Linked DNA regions of Homo sapiens. The protein of the gene in region 1 interacts with the protein of each later gene in a pairwise test. Each region holds a gene or a part of one and is shown on either strand. Other genes may lie near its edges. The genes, in order: TRIM54, ZFHX3 and ELOA.

Evidence for each region.
Region 2: the proteins of TRIM54 (region 1) and ZFHX3 interact in binary tests that used the Homo sapiens proteins (3 or more experiments, as listed by UniProt).
Region 3: the proteins of TRIM54 (region 1) and ELOA interact in binary tests that used the Homo sapiens proteins (3 or more experiments, as listed by UniProt).

Annotation. Positions count from the first base shown.
Region 1 is NC_000002.12:27,285,361-27,289,111, reverse strand, and holds part of TRIM54 (tripartite motif-containing protein 54), read right to left. Parts: intron 1-3,751. UniProt on the Homo sapiens protein: May bind and stabilize microtubules during myotubes formation.
Region 2 is NC_000016.10:73,041,400-73,045,150, forward strand, and holds part of ZFHX3 (zinc finger homeobox protein 3), read right to left. Parts: intron 1-3,751.
Region 3 is NC_000001.11:23,753,446-23,757,196, reverse strand, and holds part of ELOA (elongin-A), read right to left. Parts: intron 3,098-3,751; coding exon 2,942-3,097; intron 2,835-2,941; coding exon 2,737-2,834; intron 1,355-2,736; coding exon 1,174-1,354; intron 924-1,173; coding exon 812-923; intron 245-811; coding exon 72-244; intron 1-71. UniProt on the Homo sapiens protein: SIII, also known as elongin, is a general transcription elongation factor that increases the RNA polymerase II transcription elongation past template-encoded arresting sites.

The DNA.
Region 1 (3,751 bases):
TAACGATTTTATACTCTAAGGGATACATGACAACTTCCTTAATACATCTTCATAGCTGACAGTCTCTACATTAGGCTAAAGATCTTTCAGCTGACTAATATCCAGTTAGAAAAATCCTATCTTCTGCTTCTGTTTATCTTTCCATTTCAAGACTAAGAGATAACTGATTGGTTCTATTATACACATAAATGTCCTGTTCTTTCCTTAAATCTTACATTTATGCAAGGAAGCCAGCCCCATAAAGTAAAATTTCACGTGCCAATGATGTGATGTGTAGAGGAAATTCCATCACTCTAGGAAACATAACAGAACACCTAGATTTATGTCCTTAGTCTGTCCCTTTGTTTGTGTGACTGTGACCTGTTTCCTATGTTCTCTTCTGTAAAACGGAGATAACATCCATTCGATCTAACTCAAATGGAATCATGTTTGTGAATGTATTCTATAAATTATAAGGCACTGCACAAACACAGAGGACTGTTAACAATCCTAATCTAGACCTTAAAAAGAAATGACCACACAGAACCACAGGGTACGAAATGACTGTTCTTTCTCCACTGTGAAGGATAAGATGGAATGGAACAAATAAATGGAATTTAATTCTAGGCTATGTTCAAGGCTGTTGTGTGGAATATATGCCATGAGCTCTCTCTCTTTTAGGCTTTACGGTGCCTTCTATTTCCTTTGTAATGTTCCATAGCATCTAATAGAAATGTTCCATCTAGAAAGATGCTCTGTAAATGCAGCTAGTCTAGCAAATCCATACTTATGTCAGAATGTTTTCCCTCTTCCCTGGCTATCCAGAGAGGTGCTAATTTGGGACACAGGCTCTGGATGCAATGGGGCTTTTTGGAGGCTATTTCCCTCAACCTGAAGGCCTGGCCAGTGATGAATGATGGACCATCCAAGTTCTGTGAGCCAGACACTCAGAATATGCTGGAAAAACCTTGGGAAAACGGTGGGCAGAAGACCAGACATTTGGAGAAAAGCTGAAGCGCCTGAGAAGAATCCAGGTTTTGGTAAAAGCTGAGCTGCAGGTATAAGAGGGACTGTAAACAGAGGGCTAGCTATGGGCGGTAGAACCTAGGGAAGAGCTTGGCCCAAGGGGCTGGTAAACCAAGCCCTACTGCTTGAAAGGAGGAGTGATAAGCAGAAGAGTGGGCCAAATTAGGACACTGGTCACAGAATGGAAAGCCCTCAAAAAATGGAAATCCACAAAAATATTTTTCGACTTTGTGAAACCAAATCGTTAGAATTGCAAGAGATGTTAAAGGTCAGTTTAAGGCCAGGTGCAGTGGCTCACGCCTATAACCCCAGAGCTTTTGGAGGCTGAACTGAGAGGATCGCTTGAGGCCAGGAGTTTGAGACCAGCTTGGGCAACATAGTAAGACTTTGTCTGTACAAAAACATTTTTTTTTTAATTAGCTGAGTGTGGTGGTACATGCCTGTAATCCTAGCTACACGAAAGGCTGAGGCAGAAGGACTGTTTGAGCCCAGGAGTTCAAGGTTACAGTGGACTATGATCGTGCCACTGCACTCCAGCCTGGGTGACAGAGTGAGACCCTGTCTCTGGGAAAAAAAAAATCAGTTTAAAACACCCTTTTCGGTCAGGAACAGTGGCTCATGCCTGTAATCCTGGCATTTTGGGAGGCTGAGGTGGGAGGATCCTTTGAGTCCAGGAGTTGGAGAACAACCTGGGCAACATAGAGAGACCCTTGTCTCTACAAAAAATTACAAAAAAATTAGCCAGGCATAGTGGTGCACACCTGTGGTCCCAGCTACTCAGGGGGCTGAGGTAGGAGGGATGGCTAGAGGCTGGGAAGTCGAGGCTGCAGTGAGCCATCATCATGCCACTGCACTTAACCTGGGTGATAGAATGAGACCCTGTCTCAAAAATAAAGAAAGAAAGAAAACACCCTTTTCATTTATAGTTATGTAAACAGGCTTGAAGTGGTGAAATAGCCTGATATGCATTGTGTGGCAAATTAACAAAGAAACCCGTCAGAGGAGAATCCAGGAGTGCTAAGCCTTAGTCTAGGTTTTCGTTCTCACTAAATCAAGATCTTCCCTACAGAAGTAAGAGCCCTAACCCTGCTACAAATTTAATGCAATTCACAAAATTTTAGTGAACCAATTTTGCATCAGGGAGACCTGCCCAAAGTTGGACTGAAGAAATCCTGGTGCCTTCAGAATGGGTAGAAGTGGTTGAGGAGGCAGGCTGGGTAGGATCTTCTCTGGCAGGCCTGTACCTGATGACACCTGGTCCTAACAACTAAAGGATAAAGAAATGGAATTTGGGTGGCGCGAAACAAAAGTCATCTCTCTCAGACTGCCCCTTGTTAGAGAAGGAGGCTTCTTTCTTGACAATCCCCCCTCTGCAAGTCCCTCTGTAGACAGACCTCCTCCAGAAAAGCTGTTCCAGAACAACCTTCTTACAAGGCCTTTTGGTTGTCTGTTAAATTACAACAGGTTGCAGGCTCAAAAACAAGTGCCCACAGTGAAGTGGAGGCAGGTATAAAAATAAACTGAAGGCTTGCTTTAAAGCCGTTTAGGAGTGAATAGAATTTACAAATACAGAAACACATGGGAAGATGTTTGTGTCAAATTCCCACACCAACAGCTTTCCTTTAGTGGAAGTTCTTGGTAGCTGAGTGGGTGCAAGTGTGGGGAAAGAAGGAGGAAGAAATTAGAGGGGGTTAATGTGGTGTCTTGGTGTTTCATTCTGTTTCAATTCAGAGAGAAAGAGTTGTTACAGCTCTAAAAAGAATTACATTAAGATGGCCACTATGTAAAAATGTTTGCGGACATGGGCTTGAATGTAATATGCAAAAATTGCTGGGCTTGGTGGTGTGCACTCCAGAGGCTGAGGCAGGAAGATAACTTGAGCCCAGGAGTTCAAGATCAGTCTGGGTAACATAATGTGACACCATCTCAAAAAAAAAAAAATAATATGCAAAAATAAAAATAACTGTGTTGGGGAGGTAAGATTATGGATGATTTCCTCCCAACCCCTTAATACTGTTCAACTAACAGTATTTTCTTTTTTGTAGAGATGAGGTCTCACTATGTTGCCCAGGCTGGTCTTAAATTCCTGGGCTCAAGTGATCCTCCTGTCTCAGCCTCCCAAAGTGTTGGGATTACAGGCATGAGCCACCTTACGTAGCCAGTATTTTTAAATAAATTGTTTTCAAATTTTGCTTCCTGGCTGTCTAGTTAACTTGGTCTTATAAAATCACAATTCCCAAAAACTCTTGTTTGTTGTCCATCACGGCAGTTTTTAGGACAACAAAACACAGAAAACCATCTAAATGTTTTAGAGGACAGATTATTTAAATAGACTGTGGTCCAGTCATAACAATGAAAACTACACAGCTATTTAAAAACGAAGACATAAATCTGAATGGTGGATATGGAACAATCACCCACAGCGAGTAAGTGAACAAAGGCAGGTGGGGGGCGATGGGTCTCGCCTGAGAACACATATACATGCAAATGTGCCGATTTGTGGAAATTTTCTGGAAGTATTCCCAAGAAAGTTGGTAATAGTTACTTCTATCTGGTGAGACAACTGAGGGTCTGAGGTGAATAGCAGATTTGCTTTTCATGATATGAACTCCTATACTGCTTGAAAACAGTATGTTTACATGTTACAAATTCTAAGTGATATACTGGTATCACTTTGATAACCGTTAACTTTCTAGGCAATGCTCTAAGGGTATTCTTCCTAAGTGGTTTGAAGGTAGAGGAAAAG
Region 2 (3,751 bases), on another chromosome or scaffold:
AAGGGTGTGCAGGGCTGAGGTGACCCTACTACCGTCATTTCTGCCATTCTTTACTTGAACAACATTTTTTAAGTGGGCAAAATACTATCTTATGAAAAACAAACCAACAGGGGCCCAGGTAACACACATTCATATAGTCAGTTACACAGACTGAAAGTCTTCATCAATGCCCATCTCAATTACGTTATCAAATAACATAAGGGGACACTATTCAAGATTCCATCAGAACAGAGATGGCATTTAAAAGCAGTCGCTTGAGTAGTGACACCAACCTCCTGCCGCACACACTGAAATCCATGAGCCTCTTCTAAAGTGTCCAAAAGTTGACCTGACACTTTAACGCTGATGCAGATACTCCACAAAAAAAAGCGGAGCTGTTAAAAGGGAAGCAGAAACCATTCCTCCAGTCAAGGCCAAATGTACATTAAGAACCAAGGCCTTGAGCCAAAGAGCATTTTAGGAAGCAGGGCCTTAAATGGTGGAAGAGGCTTGCATTGCTTCTTGAGTAGTTAAGAACAATTGTTTAAAAAAAGAAAAAAGAGAAGTTGGGAGATGGAGAAGAAAGGCACCCATGTGTTCTTCAGCAACTTCCACGGGACAAAGATGTTGGGAAGGGAGAAGTCATCAGAAATAGGCCACTCAGGAGACTGGAAGCATGGGGAGCAGCTCAGTTCATGTCTACACATATGTGGTTTTTATAGACTTTCAGGAGTTTAAATGCTTCTGAAAAGCGATGTTTGCATACTGAAGGGAGACAGACTTCCATATTTGAACAGGCACTTATATGACTTTTTCAGGGGATGCAGGGCTGAGATCAACTATCAGATTAAGCCCCTTGGTCTTTCTGCACTCGGCTAATCTGCCTCCTGCCTCTCCACTAAGGAGATTCAAATGAGAAGACAGAGGCAGTCGCCTCTGAACTAGAATCTTCCTACTGAAATGCAGAGCCTATGATAGAAATGGGCACCGGGGACCATCTATCCAAAAGCCAGCCTAACCGATACACTCAGAAGAATTTTTCTCCAGTCACACTCCTGGATGGAGTCAGGAACAACCAAGAAACAAGCAAAACTGTTCTTTTGCCTCCTCCTTCCTGAAAGAACCCCATCAAGAAGCCTACACATGACCCCTCCAGTGTGTAAGCCCCAATCATGCCTAACCACCCCAAATCACCCCAAGTACTCAGCCCTACTCAATAACTAACACCCTCTCCCATCTACACAGAACAGCGGGTATAGGCAGTCACTGACTCCTGCCCTAGAAGCATCGGGCGAGGGGTCTCACTCCCAGATCAAAGGTTTGTGGCCAAGATAACTTTTGGGACAGTGGATGAAATCAGCAGCAGATGAAAACTCCACAGCCTTTTTCAGAGTCCAGTGGAGCCAGTTCTCCCACTTCCAGTCCAAGTCTCCCTGCAGATGACTGAAGGTGATCCATACATTCCTAACTGCTGCCCCGAAAGACCCACTTACAATTAAACTCCAGGTCACCAGTTAAGAAAGCCTTTAGGCCCCTTATGTCATTAGCTTCCTCCCAGAAACCAAGCAGAATAGAAAGTGAGAGGCATCCCAGCACCGGCCCATCTTCTCAAGGTGTGGCCTTGCAAGGGAGTTTCAGTGGCTTCATCCCAAACCACCAGCAGCCAGGAGTAGGGGTGGGAGTGCGGCAGATGTTTTGCCCGCCTCACTGGAAGCTTTAGACCTGACTCCAGGGAGGGAAAAGGATGGACAAATCTCAGAGGCAGCACATGTGTTAATACCAAAGCTCAAAGAACACACAGCAGAACCACCTAAGACCTCCAGGACACAGCAAGCCAGCTAAGGCCCCTCTGGAAAGGTACACATCAAACCCCCCACACAGTAATCCTCATGTTGAGACTGCTGTGGTGACCCTCTGATGGACAGGGAGAGGGGGTCACCCAAAAGGCAGATGAAGCCCAGGCATTTTGCTAAGAGGCCCGGGCTGGAGTTAAAACCAACAAAACAGAAGTCTTGCTTCAAAATGGGGCTGAATTTGCCATCTCGCAAACTTTCTATGTCTCCCTCCCTGTTTTTATTTGAGCCCTTATTCTTGTAAAAGCAAGAAACTCCATGAATGAAGGCTGAAAGGCAGAAACGTCAAAGAAAGAAAAAATCCCCTTTAAATGTTAAAAGCCAAAGTACTTTCCTTGGGCAAATAACTCTCTAGAGACACCCCCATCACTGCCTAGACCACGGCCTTGTCCTCACCCACCTGTCCCCTGGCCCAAAGAATGAAAACCAGAAACATTCCAGTCGTTTCCCTACTTCTGAAGCTTCAGCTCAGTGCTGCTGTCAATCGGCACTAAGCCTTGCTCTGCACCTCTGTCCTCAGTTTCTGTCCATATCAAAGTCATTTACCATATTAGCCCAAAGAAGCCCTCCAACATCTGATTGCCACTTTGCACATGTTCAAAGAGATCAATCTGGCAGTCAACTTTAAATCATAGAGAAAAGCCCTCTGACAGTTGTTGATTTTGTAGTGCTTCTCTTTAATCTGGATTTTCAAAGTGGCTTGCCAATGAGCCAAGATTTCTGCCTGGGTCTCTCCCTCGGGGCGGTTTGACACAACCGTAGCTTCTGTGTGCTCCTTTCTCAATCTGAGTGGCCTGAGGACACAGGACACTGTGCTTTGGACAGAACAGGCGCCCTTTATGATTTAAACTAGCTCCTGCCAAGGAATTCCCTTGCCTAGATTCTATTAAAACTGGGTTCCCATTTCCCCTGACCATAGTTTTTTAACTCAGGCAGAGGACGGTGGTTCTGAGCTGTGCTGTGATTTCTAATAATAACCATTACCACCAAATTCTCATACCAGAGCATTTGGATACCCCTATGAGGTTCACTGTAATGGAATCTGCCTTCCTGTTGTGTTTTTACAGTAACGCCCCCATCCTGGTTAATTGCACCAGCCTTAGGAACCAGAGCAAGCCAACAGGCCCAAACATCACAGAAATAGGCCAGGCTAACAGCAAGCAATCATTTTAATAACAAATGAAAGCATAAACCACAGCACATACTGTACTTCTTCAGGTTACTGACAGGCATCTTCAGTGTGCAGTACGAGTGAGGGTGAGATGGAGTTTATATAAGTTTGTTCAGACCAGAATCATTGCTGCCTACTTGTAAGTCAAGGCTAAATCCTTAGAGCTGAGAAACAAGTGAGTTACTCTTAAAAGGTGAGTGTTTGTTTGTTTGTTTGTTTGTTTGCTTTGAGATGGAGTTTCGGAGTTTCGCTCTTGTTGCCCAGGCTAGAATGCAATGGCCCAATCTCAGCTCACTGCAACCTCCCCCTCCCAGATTCAAGCGATTCTCCTGCCTCGGCCTCCTGAGTAGCTGGAGTTACAGGAATGCACCATCACACTCGGCTAATTTTGTATTTTTAGTAGAGACGGGGTTTCTCCATGTTGATCAGGCTGGTCTCGAACTCCCAACCTCAAGTGATCTGCCTGCCTCAGCCTCCCAAAGTGCTGGGATTACAGGCATGAGCCACCATGCCTGGCCAAAAGGTGAGTTTTATAAAGACAGCTCACTTTCTTCCCCTTTAAATAATTCAAGCCAGTTCCCTACACTTTTACAAAATGTTGCTTAGTCACTTAAATATTTACTTTTTAAGATGACACTGTTACAACTCTGCAATAAAAATAATTTCTTAAGTAAGGGTCTGCTCTGAGCCCTGAAGCATTTCCAGATTCTTACTGATACTTTGTAGGTGGAAGAAAAAAAGCTCCTAC
Region 3 (3,751 bases), on another chromosome or scaffold:
GTGAATAATGACATTGAGAGTTAAAAACTAGTGCTGAAATAATATTTGAGCAGGAACTCCAAGTTACTTACTCTTCACAGTGGGTTTCCTAGGATCATAGGAAACAGTGCTGCTGACCACTGGTGCCAAGTGGGCACTGCTGGTGCTTGGGCCATCATAGGCCGGCTCCTCAGGGCTGGGGTTAAAGCTGATGCTACTGGCGGAAGCATGGCTGCTTCCCATGGGGTACGGGGCTGGCTTGATCCTGCAACACAGGACAACACTGGTTAGGCATGAGCACAAGAAATCTGCCCTGAGCATGAACAGCCTGAAGCTGGCCTGTGTGAGGATGACTCACCCTGTTTGTGGCTTTGACCAATGGACCCTATCACCCTGGATTCTGGTGGTGGCTCAGAGATGTCTCCATTATCCTTTCAGAAAAAATGATAATCTCAACTAACTTTTCACTGTTTTGGTATAAATCTGTATTTTGAAAAGGCTAATGTGGCTTAGACAAAATAACAATCATTGCAGAAATGTGTTTTTTGTTTAGATGGGAAAAGGGAAAGCATAAGGGAATGTTTCCCATAAGCCAGGCTTTGCTCTCCATTTAATCTTGACTACCCTAGGGCAGGGGTAATTATCACCTTGCACTGCAGTCCAAGAAGCGGAGGCTGAGGGAGGTGAGGGAAGTGCTGAGCTGATGAGGTCTGCCTCCAGAGCCCACAGTCTGCACTGCCTCACTTTCACCAAAAGCAATTTGCTTCCTGCCGCTATGGCTACCTCTAAGGGTTGATAGCACACAAAAGCCAGGTAAGAACACAGATCTTACTTGATTTTCTCAGGGACAGCTGCTCCTCCCGTTCCAAACTTTTCCTGCCTCCTCCGGACGTCACGAGGTGGCTTGGCCACAGAGTTGACAAAGGCCATCTTTGCTTGTCGGCCTGTGGAATTATGGAGATGAACATCTGCCTTCTTGAGCAGAGATGCTACTGTTATTTAAATAATCCACGGGCTTTTTGAGTGCCCTGAAACCCCACTTGTAGGGTAGAATGGGCGGTGGCAGAAGAAATACCCACCCTGCTACCTGATGTAGGGGCAAGCAGTCCTACACCAGCCAAGCCCACCAACACCCTGCTATTGACCAGAACACTCATCCTGCCAGTTCTCCCCCAGCTCTCCCGTCTCTGTTACCTTTGGGCTTATTGGCATGTGCGAACTGGATATTCTTTGTTAGTACTCGTAGCCGCTGCTCTCGGGCGTCCTGAAGCCGCAGGTACATCTCTCGCCACGACTCATACTCTTCGGGTCTTTCTTCCTTAAAGTCTCGGTGACAATGAACTTTCCATAATTGATCTGTTTCTTCAATTAATACCTGAAACCAGAACCAGGACATCATTTGTGTACAAGCACTTTTCCATATTTTTTTTTTTTTTTTGAGACAGAGTCTTGCTCTGTCGTGTAGACTGCAGTGCAGTGGTGCAATTTTGGTTCACTGCAACCCTTGCCTCCTGGGTTCAAGCGATTCTCACGCCTCAGCCTCTCAAGTAGCCAGGACTACAGGTGCTTACCACCACGCCCAGCTATTTTATATTTTCAGTAGAGATGGGGTTTTGCCATGTTGTCCAGGCTGGTCTCGAACTCCTGACCTCAGATAATCCGCCCACCTTGGCCTCCCAGAGTGCTGGGATTACAGGCGTGTGTCACCATGCCCAGCCTCATATCTTTTTCTGATTATTTAATTACCTAGGAGTGACCAGTTTCCCAAAAATTTTTTGGTCTTCATCTTAGTAGTATGTTAAAATACCACAATTCTAGGAAAAAAATAACTCCCTAAATTTTAAAAATGCGAAGTGTGAGGCACTATGCTAGTTGCTTTTGGTGGCTGTGACAGAATATCACAAAAATCTGTGTAACATCAGTCTTTTCCTTTAGAAAATCAGCAAAGGGTAGAACTGCGATCAAGTCAAATCAGGTACTTCCCAACACTACGCTGAACTGTGATGGCAAAGGGGCAACCTAAGAAGGATGTTAAGTTATTGGCCAGGCGCGTTGGCTCATGCCTGTAATCCCAGCACTTCAGGAGGCCAAGAGTCTGAGAGTCCATCTCTCTAAAAAATAAAAATATTAGCCAGCTGTGGTGGTATGTGCCTGTAGTCCCAGCTACTTGGGAGGATCACTTAAGCCCAGGAGTTCAAGGATGCAGTAAGCCATGATTAGGCCTCTGTACTGCAGTCGAAGCAACAGAGGTAGACCCTATCTCCAAAAAAAAAAAAAAAGGTGTTAGGTCATAGAACTTTCAGAATTAAAGAGAGACAGCTGATGCAATCAAATGTGTATACCCTACATCCTAAGGAGGATTCTGGATAAATCTTGATGTTTCTTAAGAGACATCCAGCCAATCACCAGATGTCAGAGTGTCAACACAAAGTGCTTTCCCCGCCCTGGGTCCCAGCTACTCTGCTGCCAGAATTCTCCCTTTACCTTCATGACTAGGCAAGCTCAAGGGAGATGTTAAGTGTTTTTCTTCTCCCTTTGAATCCCACCCTGATCCTAGCCCAAGAGGCCCACTTAAGGTGCCAGGAGCAAGTGCTAATAACATGCTTGTTTAAAGGCCCAGTGGCAAACCAAATATATCCAGAACAATGCTCTGACCACTGATCTGCCCTTCAGCCACAGCGGAGTCACAGGGACAAAGCTATTTCTGGAGGTACAAGCCAGAAAACTGCCCTCTTCCCACCCAAACAGAATACTCACATGATTGTATTCCTCTATGCGATACAGCTGATCAGGTGTACACCTCTCCAAAACGGGTTCAAGAACAGAGTATGGGACTCCTCCCACTTCAAAGATTGCTGCAGAGAAACCAAAGGTGAAGACACTGAGTAGCAGCCAAGCCACCCAGTGATAAGGTCCAAGTGCTACAATGTGCTTGAGAGCTAGAGAGAAGCGTGTGACTTACAATCGATGTTGTTTTTAAGTACTCGGATGCATTGCTGGTGCAAGGTCATCATTTTAGGGAGATAGGCACACTTGGAACCAGAATACACCTGCATCTTGGAATTCATTCTGCGCCCAGTAAATCCAGCTTCTTCTTCTTCCTGGGGTGAAGAGAACGCTATAGGGCAAGAAAAACACAAAAGGCCCTAAGTGATCCAGTGAAAACTCTCCTTCTACCCCCTTCAGCCTCCTACTTCCCTTTCCCAATGGCAATCCACGCTACAGATTTTTGTAGATCCTTCCAGAGAATTTAAAAATAAGCTCCTGTAATCCCAGCACTTTAGGAGGCCAAGGCACATGAATCATCTGAGGTCAAGAGTTCGAGATCAGCCTGCCCAACATGCACCTGTAGTCCCAGCTACTCAGGAGGCTGAGGCAGAGGAATTGCTTGAACCTAGGAGGTGGAGGCTGCAGTGAGCCAAGATGGAGCTACTGCACTCCAGCCTGAGTAACACAGCAAGACTCTCAACAGCAACAACAAAAAAAAGCAAATGTATCTTATTCCTTTTAAGCCAATGAATCAATTAATAACATACTCACTACATACATTGCTTTTTTTCATTTGCCACATCTGAGAGATCATTCCATGTCAGTGCATAGACTTTCCACATTTTTTTTTTACTGTGGCATAGGATGCCACTGTGTAGATGAACCATGATTTATCTGTTAGTCTCCTGCTGATAGACCCTTATGTGGCTTCTACTTCTTTTGCTATGAAAATTAGACATTTTTTTCTTTCAGACAAAAATCCTATGTAACACATAGGATAAAG